3 linked regions of the Homo sapiens genome follow. The protein of the gene in region 3 purifies or fractionates together with the protein of the main gene of each other region. This does not show direct contact. Each region holds a gene or a part of one and is shown on either strand. Other genes may lie near its edges.

What was found.
Region 1: the proteins of CDK5RAP3 (region 3) and PIP4P2 purify together in Homo sapiens (affinity purification with mass spectrometry; 4 studies listed by BioGRID and IntAct, with this or other methods). This does not show direct contact.
Region 2: the proteins of CDK5RAP3 (region 3) and PLD2 purify together in Homo sapiens (co-immunoprecipitation; 3 studies listed by BioGRID and IntAct, with this or other methods). This does not show direct contact.

The regions. Positions count from the first base shown.
Region 1 is NC_000008.11:91,020,116-91,023,938, forward strand, and holds part of PIP4P2 (type 2 phosphatidylinositol 4,5-bisphosphate 4-phosphatase), read right to left. Parts: intron 1,290-3,823; coding exon 1,141-1,289; intron 149-1,140; coding exon 42-148; intron 1-41. UniProt on the Homo sapiens protein: Catalyzes the hydrolysis of phosphatidylinositol-4,5-bisphosphate (PtdIns-4,5-P2) to phosphatidylinositol-4-phosphate (PtdIns-4-P).
Region 2 is NC_000017.11:4,817,079-4,820,901, reverse strand, and holds part of PLD2 (phospholipase D2), read right to left. Parts: coding exon of another isoform or gene 3,757-3,823; coding exon 3,643-3,756; intron 2,901-3,642; coding exon 2,796-2,900; intron 2,606-2,795; coding exon 2,517-2,605; intron 2,409-2,516; coding exon 2,295-2,408; intron 2,129-2,294; coding exon 2,079-2,128; intron 1,819-2,078; coding exon 1,684-1,818; intron 1,474-1,683; coding exon 1,320-1,473; intron 1-1,319.
Region 3 is NC_000017.11:47,974,113-47,977,712, reverse strand, and holds part of CDK5RAP3 (CDK5 regulatory subunit-associated protein 3), read right to left. Parts: intron 3,314-3,600; coding exon 3,265-3,313; exon of another isoform or gene 2,628-3,264; coding exon of another isoform or gene 2,555-2,627; coding exon 2,376-2,554; intron 2,200-2,375; coding exon 2,060-2,199; exon of another isoform or gene 1,845-2,059; coding exon 1,700-1,844; intron 1,002-1,699; coding exon 891-1,001; intron 1-890. UniProt on the Homo sapiens protein: Substrate adapter of E3 ligase complexes mediating ufmylation, the covalent attachment of the ubiquitin-like modifier UFM1 to substrate proteins, and which is involved in various processes, such as ribosome recycling and reticulophagy (also called ER-phagy).

The sequences.
Region 1 (3,823 bases), on a different chromosome or scaffold from region 3:
GAACAAATGAATGAATCAATGAATTAATCTTTATCTCTTACCAGTTGGGTCTTGGGCATCCTATTCGCCGAGATGTGTCCTTACAAATGAGAAGACAATTACAAGGGCATCTAACATATTTCTTGCCTGTTGGGGGGTTTTTGATTGGCTGGATAAGGGAAGAAAATGCAAACACAGCAATTAACCAAAGTACAGATTGTCAAAGTTTGTTTGTGTTTAAAAAGGAAAGGATTCCATTAAAACTAATGAAATATATTGCTTTTGTAACTTAAGGTTTTATTTTATGATTTTTCTATAAAACATATGAAGTCAAGTATTCATGTTTTGTGGTCCTTCAAGACACAATAATCACTGGCTGACTTTTTTTAGTCTTTTCTAAAGAGAAAAAAATAAAACATCAAAGATAAAATTAATATTTAATTGCAGATTTTGAGAGATCAAAATGTAATATATAAAGCCTAACTATGAAAGAAATATATTTCATCTAAACCAGTGTATGCTTTACCAGTTTATTACTTGAAGCTATAAAAATACTGCTGAAAATTTAGTTGCTCCCCAAAGCTCAATTTTTAAAAAAGGAAAGGTGTTATTCAATATTTTAAACATTCCTAAATTACTATCAACTAAATTGAATAAAATGTCAAACTATTTGTAAACACTTTGGCACAGATGCTAATAATAAATGCATAATCACAAAAGCCCAGAAAAACAATAGTGACATCCTACAGACATAAAATAACTTCAAATAATTTTCCACATAAATAGGGCAAAGTTTACATCTGTAATGAAGTTTAGTACACAATATTTTCATTTTAATGAAAACAAGAATGAATGTAGTTGTGATGTGGATAGATATTGAAAGTATTTATACGTAACTGCCATGCTCAGTCTAGTTTTTGAAAGTAAAAAGCCAAAAGGCATTATATTTAAATTCACCATGAAATTCTCTTAATGGGGTTAGCTTTAAACACAGTGAGGTATCCTATGATGAAAGAGAGACAGAAGAAAAGACAGGAAAAAAGATTACCATATTTGTATCCAGCCCACATATACTTTTAAGTAACATTATTGAAGTACTTCCTTTAGGAATAAAATGTCAAATAACAATTTATATTTTTTCTAATGGAAATCTCCACTTACCGTAGCTTCATTGCAAACTGTGCACTTAACCACATGCTGGTGAAGCTTGCCATCCAAATTGATTAGTGATTGGCACACACGGCAGTTTATTACTGGAATACCACTGGCGTCTGGACTGGCAATGGCTGTATATGGAGGTGGGAGCTCCGCTGAAAAGATATTAGTCACTGAATCAGAGTCTTGGAGAAATTACTATGGCTGGTTTGAGTATAGAGGCAATATAAGTAAAGAAGAAACAATCAAGATTTTCCCACGTTCTTTTATTTATTTTTCAAAGCTAGCCAATTTATCTTACTTTTAGAGCACAAACATCCATGAGACTCTTATCAAGTAAAATAATTCTTAACTCTGATAAAATCTAAATCATGTTTGCCTAGGTCTATCCCAATAACCCAGTTTCCTTTTACTAATCTATACTCAAAATGTCACTCCATTCCTATTAGTAAATTCATACAGTCTCTAACAGGAGAGTGGTAATTTATGCCTACAATAAAAATTTTACACAAGTGATCTGATTCCCAGGAAATAAAAATGGTCGATGAAAGCAAAGTTTTAAAATTGCTTATCCATACATATAAATTATGTAGCTGTCATGCTCTGTCTTTATATTGGAACCAGTATAATGACTGCTGGCTATGACAAGAATAAAACAAGGTGTTGGAGGAAGTCAAGAAGAAACAAAAATGAACCTAAGAAAACTAAACTTCTCAGCATGGAACAAAAATGGGAACCATGCTAATTTCAGACACAAAACAAAAATAAAGTAAATATAACAATTTTTAGTCTCAAAATTTACCTACCATTAAAAATGTAAGAAATGCACCAAAGTGTTTATGAGTAAAAAAATGTAGTATGTGGGATTAAAAACTTCAAAAACCATAACAACAACCACCACAAAAAGAATGGGGAACCAGATGAAACAAGTAGCAAAATGTTGATAACTGATGAATATAATGACATGGAAGGTCATAGTTTCACACTACTTTTGTGTATGTTTGAAAATTCCCATAATACAAAGACACACACACAGTGTTTTTTTTGAGAGTCCTAAGGTTGACTCAGTGAGTGAGTGAAGGGTGGAGGCCCACTTTCAAAATCAAGTATCTACCAGAAGTGTATATTTGTTACAAAAGTCTGAGAAAAGGAATCCTGATATACTACTCTGGAATGGGATTTCTAAAGGAGACTGCCTAACCCCTTTCTGTAACTATCTCAACTACAGGAATAGAAGACTTTTCCAAGGTAAAGTTTTGTCTTGGGACATTTAGAAAGGGCCACACTCTAACATATGATTGAAGCACGAAAGAGAACTGGTATCTCAAGAGGCTTCTGTAACACTATAAAATATAATCACAATAGCTAAGCATAATAAGAGCTATTTTTGAAATAAAGGTTTTCTATCCACTGTATTAGGTCCTAAACTTTGTGATATTTTAAAAAGAATTAGAGCATAAAACATTTTGGTATGTTTAAAATACACATATTTCTACCTGATCCTTGGGTTATAATATAGGATTTTTTTCAGACTGCTAAGGATTAGCAACAAGTGGTATTCGTTCAAATGATTCATAAGACAAATTTCTGCAGCAGCCAAGGCTCTGAAAGAGGCCACTTTGAAATGACGATATGCTTATGTTTCTGGGAGGCTTATAACAGAACACTGCCAAACACTGAAATTCAAAAGAAGCTGTACATGTCTTAAATTATAAAAATAATTTTAAATCCATGAAAAGAATTTGAGCGTGATCCAGAGTGACCTGTAATGTATTAATCAAGAAGAAAAAAACATGTTAAAGAAACAATGAGTCAACAATATACTTAAGGTCTTGCAATTTGCAGATTACTTTGTCAGATCTCAATAAAGACATTATTCTTGGGGAAAGAATATGTACCTCACTAGAAATTCAAGACACACTGCCTGGTATATGATAATGAATATTATTTTAATAATTATTTGCAGTAGCATTATTAACAAAAGTTGCTTCCTCTCTGGCCTTTTCCTTGAGTTGTACAGTAACATTACATAGTTCTCTCGTAATCCCAGGTCTCTATCTTACACAGTATGATAGAAAGGAAACTTAAATGCAAGACAGTTTTATAAAGAAAACAAGGGCATTAGGGGGAGAGGAGGAAGTGACATATTGCTACACTACATAAAAGGACACCAACCCATACACTCCTCAGCTTTGCTCAAAGAAATCTCCTAAGAAAATTTCAGAGGGTGATCTTAACAATCATTAAAAGGGCATTAGAGCCAGTAAAACCCTGTGAATTTTTCTTCTAAGATTTGTACTATATAATTTTTAATCTGCCAAAAAAAAAACGCCTTCAATGACAGAAATATGCTCAAATCTACTCTTTTGGAGGCTTGGGAAGTGGAGGGACATGGACAGAACAAGCAGTGAAGATTATAAATCTAATATAAGAGAGACCATAAGCTCCACGAGGCCAGGGGCACATCTGGTTTGTCCACAGCTACTTCACCAGCGCTTGTCATAATGCCTGGTCTATGATGATGCTTACTAAATGTTTATTCAATGGTTGAATTAATTAATAAATCAGCGAGTCACTAAAATTTATTAGACATATCTATTTGTCTTGGAAAAATAACACCAAGTATTAGGTTGCTGCAAAAGTAACTGCGGTTTTTGCTACGACTTTCAAATAGCAAAAACCGCAATTA
Region 2 (3,823 bases), about 43 Mb from region 3:
ACAAAACACAAAAGTTTTTTTTTTTTGGCCGGGCGTGGTGGCTCATGCCTGTAATCCCAGCACTTTGGGAGGCGGAGGCGGGCAGATCACGAGGTCAAGAGATCTAGACCATCCTGGCTAACACGGTGAAACCCCGTCTCTACTAAAAATACAAAAAATTAGCCGGGCGAGGTGGCGGGTGCCTGTAGTCCCAGCTACTCGGGAGGCTGAGGCAGGAGAATGGCATGAACCCTGGGCGGCGGAGCCTGCAGTGAGCCGAGATCGCGCCACTGCACTCCAGCCTGGGCGACAGTGAGACTCCCTCTCAAAAAAAAAGAAAAAAAAAAAAGATTTTTTTTTTTTTTTGGCCAGGGGCGGTGGTTCATGCCTGTAATCCCAGCACTTTGGGAGGCCGAAGCCTGAGGTCAGGAGTTCAAGATCAGCCTGGCCAACACAGCGAAACCCTGTCTCTACTAAAAATACAAAAATTAGCTGGGCGTGGTGGTGGGCGCCTGTAATCCCAGCTACTCCGGAGGCTGAGGCAGAAGAATTGCTTGAACCCAGGAGGCGGAGGTTGCAGTGAGCCAGGATCGTGCCATTGCACTCCAGCCTGGGCGACAAGAGTGAAACCGTGTCTCAACAACAACAACAACAACAACAAAAAAGATTTCTTTTTCGTGGCCAGGTGCAGTGGCTCACGCCTGTAATCCCAGCACTTTGGAATGCTGAAGTGGGTGGATCACCTGAGGTCGGGAGTTCGAGACCAGCCTGACCAACACGGCGAAACCCCATCTCTACTAAAAATACAAAATTAGCTGGGCGTGGTGGCGCATGCCTGTAATCCCAGCTACTCGGGAGGCTGAGGCAGGAGAATCGCTTGAACCCAGGGCAGAGGTTGCAGTGAGCTGAGATCTCGCCATTGCACTCCAGCCTGGGCAACAAGAGCAAAACTCCGTCTCAAAAAAAAAAGATTTTTTTCTCTTTTTGTTTTTTGGTGTTCCTGCTTTACTGATACTCTAAACTGATTAGTCCTAGTAGCTGGGATCACAGGCGCCCGCCACCACACCCAGCTGATTTTTTGTATTTTTAGTAGAGACGGGTTTCACTATGTTAGCCAGGCTGGTCTCAAAATCCTGACCTCAGGCAATCCACCCGCCTTGGCCTCCCAAAGTGCTGGGATTAGAGGCGTGAGCTGCCGCGCCCAGCCTTGCCTATTGAGAATCTAGTACTGCCTCTACCTCTGGCTCCGGGAGTACCTATGCGGTGCTACCTCTTGTCCTGCTCAAAAGGCAGACGCCCCCATCTCCCTCCCACCCTGTGGCATCCCGCCCCAGCTCTACCCGAAGCAGTGCTTCCGCAGACTCAAGGCAAACCTGCCCGCCTGATACTCTGCCCCATTCATGAGGGATGGTTCCGTCTCTGTGTCCTCGATCAGCACGGCCAGCTCACTGTCCCGCTTCCCCAGCAAGCTCCGGTCATTGATGTTTGCAGAACCTGGGGTGGATGCGGGGCACACTGTGTGCTTGGGCCCAGGGCACTCTCCCCAGTACCCCATCCCCTCTACCAAAGCACTGGCCTGCAACATTCCTTCTTGGACCCTCCACCCCTACACGAGCCTCAGCTGCAGTCTCTGTCATCCTGCCTCTCATCTCTTCGCCTGTCCCCACACCCTCTCCCTGCCAGAGGACTAGATCCGGCACTGACCAATGATGACTGTCCGGTCATCTGCGATGAGCACCTTGCTGTGGATGTAGATGAGCTCCGAGACGGGGTGCCCGCCCAGCTCTCCGTGTGTACGAAGCCCGCAGATGGAAATATAGTCCCGCCATGCTGTCCCCACTGCGTGACAGGAGGGGAAGTGAGGTGAGAGGTGGCTCTGTGTGCACAGGGCCCTGTCCCACCTCCTCTCACTCCAGAAACTCTTCCTACATAGAGTCTGGTCTCTCTCCTTCTCCCTGCAGTGAAAGGCCAGCTATGGTCTGCGTAGCGTCAGAGGCTCACAGGAGTGACAGCCTCCTTCCCCCACCCCCAGGCCTGCAGCGCCCCAATCTCCCTCTCCCAGGGGCCCAGGGCTTGAGCCCCCAGCCCCCAGCACTCACTGGCTGCTTTAAGGCGATGCAGGATTGAATACTCCCCACGACACAGGGTCCTGAGAGAAAAGAAAGAGGGAGAGAAGTGGAGGCTGGCAGAGGGGAGGGGAGGTCAGGAGAGGTGGCCCTTCTTTAAGGCCCAGCAGGAAGGGATCAGGACAGAATCAGGAGGGGGACACGGGTGGGATGGGGCCACTGAGAGCTGGAGTCCGCCTGGGGGGTCACCTGTAAGTAAAGTGCAGAATGGCCTGGATGGAGTTGCCACCGCCCGTGGAGATGTCACCCTCGAAGCCAGGGAGTAAGGGCAAAAGCACGTAGACTCGGTAACACCACCCCTGTCTGGGGAGGGGGTGGAGTCAGAGGTGCGACTGGTCCCTCAAACCCCACCCCCTTCAACCGGGCTCAAACCACACCCACAGTCCCCACCTTCCTGACAGTCCACCTTACTTGTGGGCCTTCAGGATTCTGTCCACAATCTCATCGCCCACCTTGTTCAGAACCGTCCGCCCATCTGAGCAGCTAATGAAGAACTGATTCTGGGGCAAGAATCAGAGACAGACATCAGCAGCCTGGCCCCTGGCCCTGTCCTCGGCCTCCAGCCTTGGTCCCAGGCTCCAGGCGTCTGCTTCTGCTCCACCAGCCCTCAATGACTGACTCCACTCATTCCCCAGGTCTCTCTCCTGGGACACCCCTTCCATGCTCTCCCCCACCTCCTCCCAGTCAGACCTCAATGTAGAGGAAGTGCTGGCTCTCCCTGATGGTGTGCAGGTAGGCATTGAGGATGGAGTTCTCCAGAGTCCCTGCTGACCAGCGGTCCACTGATCGCAAGACCTAGGGAATGGTGAATGCGATGTGCTTCATTTCTTTTCTTTTTTAAGACAGAGTCTCGCTCTGTTGCCTAGGCTGGAGTGCAGTGGCATGATCTCCGCTCACTGCAAGCTCCTCCTCCTGGGTTCACGCCATTCTCCTGCCTCAGCCTCCTAAGTAGCTGGGACTACAGGTACGCACCACCACTCCCGGCTAATTTTTTGTATTTTTAGTAGAGACAGGGTTTCATGGTGTTAGCCAGGATGGTCTTGCTCTCCGGACCTCGTGATCCGCCTGCCTCGGCCTCCCAAAGTGCTGGGATTACAGGCGTAAGCCACTGCGCCTGGCCTTTTATTTTATTTTTGAGATGGAGTCTCACTCTGTTGCCCAGGCTGGAGTGCAGTGGCGTGATCTCAGCTCACTACAACATCCTCCTCCTGGGTTCAAGCGATTCTCCTGCCTTAGCCTCCCTAGTAGCTGGGACTACAGGTACGCACCACCACGCCCGGCTAATTTTTTGTATTTTTAGTAGAGATGGGGTTTCACCATGTTAGCCAGGATGGTCTCGATCTCCGGACCTTGTGATCCGCCTGCCTTGGCCTTCCAAAGTGCTGGGATTATAGGCGTGAGCCACCGTGCCTGGCCGTGATGTGCTTCTTAACCCCAGGAAAGGAGAGTGTGGGCAGCTCTCACACCAGGGAGAGTGGGTTGGGGTGTTAGGCTGAAGGAGACAAAGGGGAGGGCTGGCTGAAGTGGGGGGCCTCACCTGTACGGTGGTGCACTGCCCTCCTGGAAGTGTGAAGGGGAGCTGATTGGCCGTGCTGGTAGACTTGGGAAGCAGGTAGGGGTATGTGGGAGTCTTGTACTTGGCCTTGGTGGTCTGACGTGGAGGGATGGCAGAGTCAGCAGGAGGTGCCAATCTGCCCTGGCTCCCTCCCTACCTCCAG
Region 3 (3,600 bases):
TGCAGCCCTGACTTAGGTGCCAAAAATGGCAGTATGGCCCATCATCCCTGCTCTGTAGTGTTCCCACCTGCCTTTACCCCTACACCCTGTACCAAACACCAAGAAAAAGGACATCAAAATTTAACTCTCACATGGGCTGGGCGCAGTGGCTCACGCTTGTAATCCCAGCACCTCAGGAGGCCGAGGCAGGTGGATCACCTGAGGTCAGGAGTTACCAGCATGGCCAACACGGCGAAACCCTGTCTCTATTAAAAATACAAAAATTAGCCGGGCGCGGTGGCTCACGCCTGTAATCCCAGCACTTTGGGAGGCTGAGGCGGGCGGATCACGAGGTCAGGAGATCGAGACCATCTGGCTAACATGGTGAAACCCCATCTCTACTAAAAATACAAAACAATTAGCCGGGCGTGGTGGCGGGCGCCTGTAGTCCCAGCTACTCAGGAGGCTGAGGCAGGAGAATGGCGTGAACCCGGGAGGCAGAGGTTGCAGTGAGCCAAGATGATGCCACTGCACTCCAGCCTGGGCGACAGAGTGAGACTCTGTCTCAACAAACAAACAAACAAAATAAAAAATTAGAGGGGTGTGGTGGTGGGCGCCTATAATCACAGCTACTTGGGAGGCTGAGGCAGGAGAATCACTTGAACCTGGGAGGCGGAAGTTGCAGTGAGCCGAGATTGCACCACTGCACTCCAGCCTGGGCGACAGAATGAGACTCTGTCTCAAAAAACAAAACAAAACTCTGACATGTGACGTGTGAAACTCTGCCTCCCTTGGACTATACCTGGTCTTAGAGCTATGAACTTCAAGTGATGCCGTTACAGACACAAATGACACTTTTCTTATGGTTAGAGTAGTGATCAGAGAGAGACAGACTGAGAAGGCCTCCTCACCTTTGAATCTGATTCCGGGAAGATGCCCCAGTCGATTCCAGCAGCCTCGGCAGAGATGCCAGAGTCAGTCCCCTCAGACACTGCCTCTACCCCAAAGTCGCCCCAGTCAATCTGGAAAGGGAAAGAGAGTGTTAGCTCATGGAAGATGGATTTAAAAAGGGCCGGGCATGGTGGCTCATGTCTGTAACCCCAGTACTTTGGGAGGCCGAGGATAGTGGATTGCTTGAGCCCAGGAGTTTGAGACCAGCCTGGGCAATATGGCAAAATCCTGTCCCTACAAAGATGTTAATAAAAAATTAGCTAGGAGTGGTGGTGCAAACCTGTAATCCCAGCTATCTTGGAGGCTGACTTGGGAGGATCGCTTGAGGCTGAGAGGCAGAGGTTGCAGTCAGCAAGGATCATGCCACTGCACTCCAGCCTGGGCAACAGAGCAAGGCCCAGTCTCAAAAATAAATTAATTTAAAAAGGAGGGTGGGGCTGCCTTCCCACAGGCCTCAGCTGCTTCTGTAGAGAGCACACTGTTCAAATGCAGTGGCCTCTAAGCTACCCCAAAGAAAGCCCATCTTCAGAGAGCTCACATGATGGAGGTTCCGAGTTCAAAGCGAACCACCTTGCAAAGCCTCTGTGGCACTCACTCACCTATACTCAGAAAAATAAAGGAGTAGGGCCTCCTGGGCCCTTCTACCTACAGTCACTCTCACAGAAATCCTCCCTTCTTCTCTCTGGGTCTTGGGTTGGGCTGTTGGGGGTGGGGAGGGGACAAGCAGCTCCCACTCCACTCCTACAGCTCATCACAAGGCCCATCTTACCGCATCTTCTGCCACCTGCTCAGGAAGCTCCTCGAGGTGGGGTCGTTCCACCACAGAGGGCTCTGTCCCTGTCCTCCACTCGTACACCGTTGAGTTTCCCCGCTTCTGCACGAACCGCAGCATTGGCAACACCTGCTCTGTGGGGCTTCAACAGAGCACACAACTGACTCTCCTGCCGACCATGCGTAAGGCCAACACTGGGCTTTGGCCTGGGCCACATGGTCAAATGGGCAAGGCCCCCACAGGTTCAGGTGTGTAAAGAGTTCAAATGTTATATGGGAACAAGACAACTGGAGAAGGGTCATGAGCTGGGGAACACAGGCAAAGCACCCCCACCAGGAGAAGCTGAGGCCTCTCTACCTCTCACACACAAACCCCACAGACGCCTGGTACACGTCAATGGCTTCCCCCAGGGACTGCTGAGCCGCTGCCCCAATCTCAGCCAGCTGACTCGGCAGGTCCTTCACCAGGGCCAGCAGTTCTCCTCGGACATTTTCGCCCTAGAGAGGGGAGAAGAGGTGGAGTCCAACAGATTGAAGAAAACATCCAAAGACCGAAGAAAAGTAAGACACTGGCCCAAAGGGGGTGCAACCAGGCTGAGGGGTCAGACGGGGTCAGAGGAAGACAAGCAGGGGCCCAGGTGTCCTCTGGCTGCGAAGAGGCTGCCGCCGCTCACCGTGATGCCATACTGCTTGCAGGAGTGGTAGAACTGCTCCCGCATCTCGGCAGCCCCTGCCTGGCACTCCTCCTCCTTGCGGCTGTATTCTTGCTGCAGCTGCTGGCACTTGGCAATCTGCTTCTTCAGTGAGGGGATCTCATAGTTGACATTCCGAACCAGGAGGCTAGAGAGTTCCACTGAGAAGTGCCCAGGAAATTCAGCCCAGGACACCCCCACATGAGGCAGGCATGCCCCAGGATGCACACACATCCTTTGTGGTGGTGAAGAGCACGAAGTCAGCTTCCCAGCCCCACTTGTTCCCAGCTGTGGAGCCTAAGACAAGTTGTTTAACCCCTCTAATCCAACCCTCATCGGTAAAACAGCGACAATAACATTTATCATGAAGATGCAAGAGAGAATCCACATGACACACCAAGCACAATTCCTTGCATTTAGTAGATGCTCAGGAAATATTAGCCATTATTATTATTTATACTACACCCAACCCAAACACAGTTAGTCCTGTAGTTGCTCTCAGGCACTTGATATTCGCTCCCAGAAAAACCCGTGCCTCTTCTGCCTTGTGTAGAATGGGGGTGCGGGGGTGGGGGTGGGGGCAGCACACTCCCGCTAACCAAGAGGTGAGTGGTGGAGGACCCACACACACCTGCTCGCTGAGGCACGGCGAATGGCCACTACCGGCCTGGACCTCCTCCTTCCCCCAGCACTCCACTCAGGGAAAATCAATTCCATCAAAAACAATTGATTTTACCACCTACAAATGGGCAACATCTACACTCCAGTCTCTTCCCACTCACAGACTGTGCCTCCTATAAGCCTGGTATCTCAGAACTCTGAGAGTGGGCTTCCCCATGGATACCAGGGCTCCCAGGCCGGGCCACTTTACCTAAGTAGGTGTTGTCCTTCTCATACAGAGCTATAATCTCCTGCCAATCCTGAGTAAGAACAGAAAAACAATGTTAAGCCAGAAAAGCACTCGACAGCCACATCCCAGCTCAATCCCTAAACAGGGTAAGTTCTCCCAGCCTTTACATCACATCAAACACAAACTCCTTGTCCTTCTTTCAACTCTGCTGGCTGGACCACCCACTTTAAGAGTGCAGGCAATCCCTAAAGCAGTGGGTTTGAAAATTAAACTCAGGGATAGGATCCACTTTTGGAGTAAACTATAGAGACAGAGTGAAAGTTCAGGAAATATTCTATGTAGGCATCCCCACTGGAG